Homo sapiens: one gene and its partner. The protein of the gene in region 2 interacts with the protein of the main gene of each other region in a pairwise test. Each region holds a gene or a part of one and is shown on either strand. Other genes may lie near its edges.

Region 1 (3,657 bases), on a different chromosome or scaffold from region 2:
GGGAGCACCTGCATGACCTGGATAATGAACAATTAAAAAGAAACACAGGTAGACATTGAAGAGCTCATCCCTGTGGGAGGATGCCAAGGACCAATGACTTGAGCCTTAAAGAGGAATTCTTTGGACTGATGAAAAAATGCAGATGAATTTAATTTCCCAGGAGGCTCAGAGGTTAAACTGTCATTATAGAAACTCTTTGTGACTATCTAACTTGGGGTGAGGCAGGATGACACCTAATTAATGAACTGATCATATGGCAGGAGACCTTTTTACAGAAAGCCAGGCATAAAAAGGAAAATACAACCCAAGTGGAGCTTCTGATCAATAAATGTCACTTTTTGTCATGTGGCTCTATGTATAAATATGTTTTAAGTGTTGTTTCCTGTTTATATAAAGCCATAAATGACCCCATCAGCCCTGTCTGTTTAGAAGGGGCCTGAGTCAAGAAAATGAGAACTAGCTACCTTAATGGTGCTTTCTGGTCATCCTATGGATTGGGTATTTTTTTGTGTGTGTATCTAACTTATGTCTCTACCTGAAATGTGCCTATGTCCTGTTGTTCTGCTTTCAGGCAACTTCTCCATCATAATGATCCATAGGCAGTATTCACTTGTTGACTGTTGTACTCAACTAATTCTCAGACTTTTATGGCTACCAGTACAATATAAATTTATTGTGACACAATTTAAGATGATTTGGATTAAGTGTCAATGAAAAATGCTGCTTAGGTAAAATACCATCTAGAAATGAAATACCTAATGATTTGTGAAAAAGCATTGAGCAAGCTCCAGTGAACAAGCAAATTACTACAGAGCACTTTGCTAGTGGATTCTGTCAGCACCACTGTATCTGGGTCTATTGTCAAATAAAGCATATCGTGTTGGTACCACAAAAGTAAAGAGATCCAACAGCCGAAGAGGAATTGAATTTCAGTCAAAAGGCAGTTGTGATGTTTTATAAAAAACATGGAACTTGCAGAAATGATACCCAAGTTGAAATCTTGCCTCTTCAACTTTCTAACTGTGTGACTTTAAGAAAATCACTTTACCTACCTGAGACTCATCTATAACTAGGTAAAATGTTGAATAAACTTGCTCTCACAGACTGTGATGGCATCATATAAATTATTTTTAACCATATACATAATAATATGCCTGATATTTAGGAAAGTCTCCATATTAGTAAAAGGGCCTAAACACATGGGATTTTCTTTACTCCCTCCTGAAACATCATTAACATGACAGTTAAGAAATTATGTAAATTATAAAGAGCCATAAGGAAAGAGAAAAAAGTAAAGGATATGCCACCAGATGAGATATTAACTAAATTTTCAAGAATTTAAAGTAGATTTTAAGAGTGGTACCTGGCTTAACATAAATAAGAAAACTGGAACTTACGTCTCCACAGATGGGAGAGGCCAATAAAAATCAAGCCATCTTGAATATGATAACATCAGAGGGGCTCAGGAACTGAATGCATGAGATACTCTTCAAGGCTAGAAACAGGACTGGTTGAAAGTCTAAAGAACCATTAGAAAGTTAGATGCCTTATCTTACCGTAAGATGCAATGATTATTTCTGTAAATATTGAACAAGAGAGTCTCAGTGATCAGAGATGTTGGACACCATGAGGAAACGAGTCAAGCTCTCTACTGAAAAATGGGAATTAAGTAAAAGTTGACATGCTGAATGGTGAAAAGCCCATTCCCCCATCCCCTTTTTCAATCTCAGAATTCTGGCAAAGAGAACATCTCTTTAGCATAATTGACTCAACAGAAAAGACCTAAGATTGTCATATTCAGGAGTCACTCAACAAAATGGCCAGAGTATCTTACCTGAGTACCATATAGTCAAGTCTACCAGTCAACAATTTCTGTCTATATCCATGGAGTTTGCAATTAGCATTTTAGTGTCTCATTCTTAAATAGTAACAGACAACCATGGATCAGCAGTATTGGGAAAGACCAGTGTAAACAAATGTAAGGCACCAAGATGTAATATATATCAAATTCCAAATTGAACTGCAAAACATCCCTCCAAACAGGTAGTCAAAGATTACTTGTACAATTCTGGAATTCCTCACTCTTGTTCAGGAGAAAACAGGTAAAGAAAAAGGAAAACTGAGAGAAGGATTCCTTTGAAGAAAACTGTGCTATGAGTGCCCCATCACCACCAAGAAAGATGAGGTATAGTTCTTGATAACCTCAGGTTAAAAGAGGGACTTCACTGGGACGACTCAGAGAGTTGGATATGTGTGCCTTGGCATTAGTGAGATGCAGTTAGTGGTATCAGAGTTACCCCTGGAAAAAGTCCATAGATGAGTCTGGCTGAAAGAGCCTATGGCAGCTGAATAGAAACATGCAGCTAAAAATTATAACTCCACTGGCTGTCAGAGAAAAGAGTAAGTTATCCATGGTCCTTCTATGAAAATATGAGAGGAAGAGATTATCTGGAACGATGTTAATAATTTCTAAGGGTTCACTAGGAGGGAACAATGAAAGCCCCTTGAAAAAAGAATCTTTACAAAACAAATCCTCAAAGAAACATGACAAGGAGAGAATAGCTAGTCAAGACACGTAAAGGGCAATCAAGAGTTCACTGCTGGACCTGTCTTAATCCCGAAAAGAATTCAGGGAAAAAAGTCAGAGCTAAACACTGGCTGAGCCTGGAGAGCATAAAGCCAATTTAACAACAATCCTAGACAAGTTAGACCTTCCTGCCTTCTATTCTCATCTCCATCCTCCCTAGTGTTTCAACCCTAGAGCAGGCAGGTGTCAAGGCTGGCAATAAGGGTGAGGGTGGTAGATAACAAAGCGAGGTCAGGAGAGAGGAAAGGCCATACCCCTGTCCTCGCCTCCTGCAGCTTGAAGGTCCTAAAAAAGAGAGGGAGTGGCTGTCACTTTTAAAGTGCTGGAAGCCTTAACTATTACACAGACTGAATTACCTAATGGCTTAGTTTTTGTGTTTTGTTTCTTAAATTGATTTTATATTTAGAACTGTTTTTTAACAGTAATCAGAAAAGACAGAGGACTGCACAAGCTTTTATTTATGAGAGGAGAAATCCTTCCCCACTGAGTTCATTCTAAAAGGACAGGAGAAAAACAAAGTAAAGCAGCTTTCTGATTCCATATTTGTTCAAAACAAACATAAAAAGGAGAAATTAAAAAAAACAAGACAATTCAGAAAACACATGAAACAAACATACAAAGGGGGAAGAATGGGTCATGTAGAAAGGATCAAGGATAAAAAAAATTTAATAAAAACTTGCCAATCATGGAAGCTAGAAGACAGTGAAGCAATGTCTTCAGAATTATGAAGGAAAATAGTTTCCACTTAGAATTCTATGCCCAGGCAACTTAAGGGCAATGACAGAATAAAAATATTTTCAGATATTCAAGTTCTCAAAAATTCTTTCTCAGAAAGCTACTAGGGGATGTTCCCCACCAAAATAAAGGTGGTAACATGTATAAAACATAGACATGGGACCCAGGAAACAGAGCATCCAAAGAGGAAACTAATAAAAGGAATTTCCAAGAGTAATTACTAGATATAATTCTAAGTTAATGAACCAGAATGACTGCTACTCAGCAGGAAGAAATCATTTCATGTTGAATCAGGAGGAGGAAAGTCTCCTGGAGGGATATCTCCAGAAAAAAAA
Region 2 (3,657 bases):
GAACGATTTCCCACAGTCAAGGCATTCATAGGGTTTCTCTCCCATGTGAGTTCTTTGATGGGTAATCAACTCTGATTTCTGGACAAAAGCCTTCCCACATTTGTAACAGACAAAAGGCCTCTCTCTAGTGTGAGTTATTTGATGTTTATGGAAATTTGACCTGCCGTTGAAGGCCTTCCCACATTCAGTGCACACATAGGGTTTCTCACCCGTGTGAATTCGCTGATGCTCTTTGAATTGAGACTTAGAAGTGAAGGCTTTCCCACATTCACTGCATTTGTAAGGCTTCTCTCCGGTGTGAATTCTCTGATGCATGCTGAGTATTGACTTCTGGTTGAAGGCTTTCCCGCATTCACTGCATACATGGTGTCTTTCTCCAGTATGAATTTTCTGGTGTATATTCAGGTGTGACTTTTGGGTGAAGGTTTTTCCACAGTCACTGCATTCATAAGGTTTCTCCCCTGTATGAATTCGATGATGTATATCAAGCTGTGACTTGGAAATGAAGGATTTCCCACAGTTGTGGCACTGATAAGGTTTTTCTCCTGTGTGGCTTCTTTGATGGACAATCAGGTGTGCCTTCTGGATGAAGGCCTGCCCGCATTCGATACACACATAGGACTTCTGCCCTGAGTGGATTCTCTGGTGCAAGCTGAGTGTTGACTTCTGGGTAAAGGCTTTCCCACATTCACTGCATGCATACTGTCTCTCACCAGTATGAATTTTCTGATGTATAATGAGGGTTGAGTTTTGGGAGAAGCCTTTGCCACATTCACTGCATTCATAGAGTTTTTCTCTACTGTGAGTTCTCTGATGTCTGAAGAGAGATAACATCTGGAAAAAGGCTTTTCCACAGTCATGGCATTTATAGGGCTTCTTTCTAGTGTGTGTTTTCTGGTGCGTAAGCAATTCTGATCTCTGAATAAAGACCTTCCCACATTCCTTGCATATACAGGGTATATCACCTGTATGATCTGTCAGATATACACTGAGTTTTAGTTGTGGCATGAAGGCTTTTCCACATTTGCCACATTCATGGAGGTTTCCTACACTATGAATTCTCTGTTGGGCAAAGAGGTGTGACTTCTGGGTGAAGCTCCCCCCACATTCAGAACATCCATCTGGTTTCTTCTGAGTATGAATTTGATGTTGCTTGAGTGACTGTTTATGGCCACAGACTTTTCTACACTGGTTACCTTTGCAAAATGTCTCTCCTGTATGAATATTCTTGCTGCAGGCATCAGAAGAGCTATGGCTGAATAGCTGACCAGACCCAACAACGTCATCAAGCTGTTCTGTGTCATTGCTTTCATTCTGACCGTTCACTTCTAGGTTCAGCTTCAAACTTTCTGTAAATAAGCAACATTTCTGAGGTTGTTTCTGTGAAGAAGCAAGGTGGGGCCTCGTGCGAATCATTTTCCCAGGGTCCTTATATTCACAATTGCTTTCTGTGTTCAATGTTTTCTTGTTGAAGAAAGCACTGTGACTCATGGGTTGAATTTGATTTTGCTCATCTTTCTTTGTGCGGTCAGCATCCAGCCTCAGTTCTTCTAAAATGGAACACCATGAACCATCTCTTGTGAACTCACCTACCATATCCTTTTGAAATGAAGCTTTCTTAGAAATCTCCTTTTGTGGGATTTCAAGCCCAAACTCCCTTTCTAAAAGGAGAAAGAGAAGATGAAATAGACACAATGAACAAGAAAGAGGAGAAACTGCATGAAGCTGATTGACACAGAACACAAGGAAATTGCTGAGTCATGTAATAATGCTGCTAATGATGCTGACAATGAGCAGAAACACAGAGCCCTTATTACATGATGAGCATTTATCTACATAGCACTTAGCATGTGCCAGGCAGTGGCCTACATGGTGCACACATACTCATTTAATCTGCATAATAACCTCAGGAGGTAGCGATGATGGGTGTTCCTGTTTTACAAAGAAAAGGAAGCACATAATGGTTATGTAATTGGCCAAGATCACTTTGCTAATCTGTGGGGATTAGATTTCAACAACCTGAGGACACTTATGCAAGTGGTCTAGACACCCAGATCTAGTAGGATGAGTAGGATAAAACAGACAAGTGTTGCAGGGCAACATGTGTGGGCAGCCAAGGCTTGAAGGAGGGGGCTCAGTGTGTAGGTCTTCATTAACTTTCAGAGATGAATCCTCACCAATCTGCCTGCTTTATCTTACTTGTTAGAAACAATGCCAAGTCCATCAGCCCTGTATATCCTTCTGAAAACTATTAAAGCTTCACCTATCTTGACATGGCCAACCAGTGAAAGAATGACTATGCCTCAACTCTCCTATGCCTCAACTCTCCATGAAGCTACAATTTTTTTTTCTTGAACTTAGGAATATACCCATATCCCCAGAAATATATTCTAAAAGACTGGACAAGCAAGCTGTTCCCCAGAATTTGTTTCACCCTTGTTCCATTGAAATTAATTGTTCTTTGTTAGAACTTTTGGCTTTATGCTATCAAATATGCCTTTTTTAGTTTAGTTTTTTGTTTTGTTTTGTTTTTTTGCCAAGAATAAGAGTCCCTGATCATCCTGTGCACTTTACTAGTATACTGCACAAAACACAGCAGGTTCTCAATAAAAATAATAGTTACTAAATTTTACTATTACTTTTTCTACCAGATTTTAATACTGAGTATGAACATCACATGTAGTTTCTTTTCGCTTTCAGTCACTTAAACTGTATCCCAGACTCTTGTCCTATCAAAAAAACTCAATCATCTTTCATTCTTTTTTTAAAAAAAGGACACTTTTAATCTTTATTGTTAACTTTTTCTTATTGTAGCAAAAGTGCATAATATTACATTTACCATCTTGCCCATTTTGTATTGTACAGTTCAGTAGTGCTACCTGTATTCACCCTGTTGTGCAATGGATCTCCAAAACTTTTACATCTTGCAAAACTGAAATGCTGTATCCATTAAACAATTTCCCTTTTCCCCCATCCCTCATTCTCTGGCAGCCACAATCTTATTCTGTCTCTATGAATTGACTACTTAAAGTACCTCATACAGGTAGAATGATACATTTGGATTTTTTGTGTCTGGCTTATTCACTTAGCATCATGATAAGATTCATCCGCACTGCAACATGTTTCATAATTCCTCTTCCTTTTTAAGGCTGAATAATATTTCATTGTATGTATAGACCACATTTTGTTTACCAATTCATTGGTCAATGGACAATTCCACTTTTTGGATATTGTGAATAGTGCTGCTATGAACAAGAGTGTACAAACAGCTGTTTGGGTCCTTGCTTTCAATTCTTGTGGGTATCTACCCAGAAGTGGAGTTGCTGGATCATATGGTAATTTTATGTTTAATTTTTGAGAAATCATCATCCTGTTTTCCATAGGACTACACCATTTTACATTCCCACTAGTAATACACAAGGATTCCAGTTTCTCTATATCCTTGCCAACACTTGTTATTCTGTTTTTTTAATTGTAGCCATTCTAATGGATGTAAAGGGATATCACCCAGTGGTTTTGATTTGCATTTCCCACATAATTAGTGAAGTTGAGCATTTTTTCCTATTATTGGCCACTTGTATATCATCTTTGAAGACATGTCTATTCACATCCTTTTCCCACTTATTAAAATAGGTTGTTTTCTATTTCATTTTTCAC

Evidence for each region.
Region 1: the proteins of ZNF175 (region 2) and LPXN interact in a two-hybrid assay, tested with the Homo sapiens proteins (one large-scale study listed by BioGRID and IntAct).

What each region holds. Positions count from the first base shown.
Region 1 is NC_000011.10:58,544,798-58,548,454, forward strand, and holds part of LPXN (leupaxin), read right to left. Parts: intron 1-3,657. UniProt on the Homo sapiens protein: Transcriptional coactivator for androgen receptor (AR) and serum response factor (SRF). Contributes to the regulation of cell adhesion, spreading and cell migration and acts as a negative regulator in integrin-mediated cell adhesion events.
Region 2 is NC_000019.10:51,584,631-51,588,287, reverse strand, and holds part of ZNF175 (zinc finger protein 175), read right to left. Parts: intron 1,662-3,657; coding exon 1-1,661.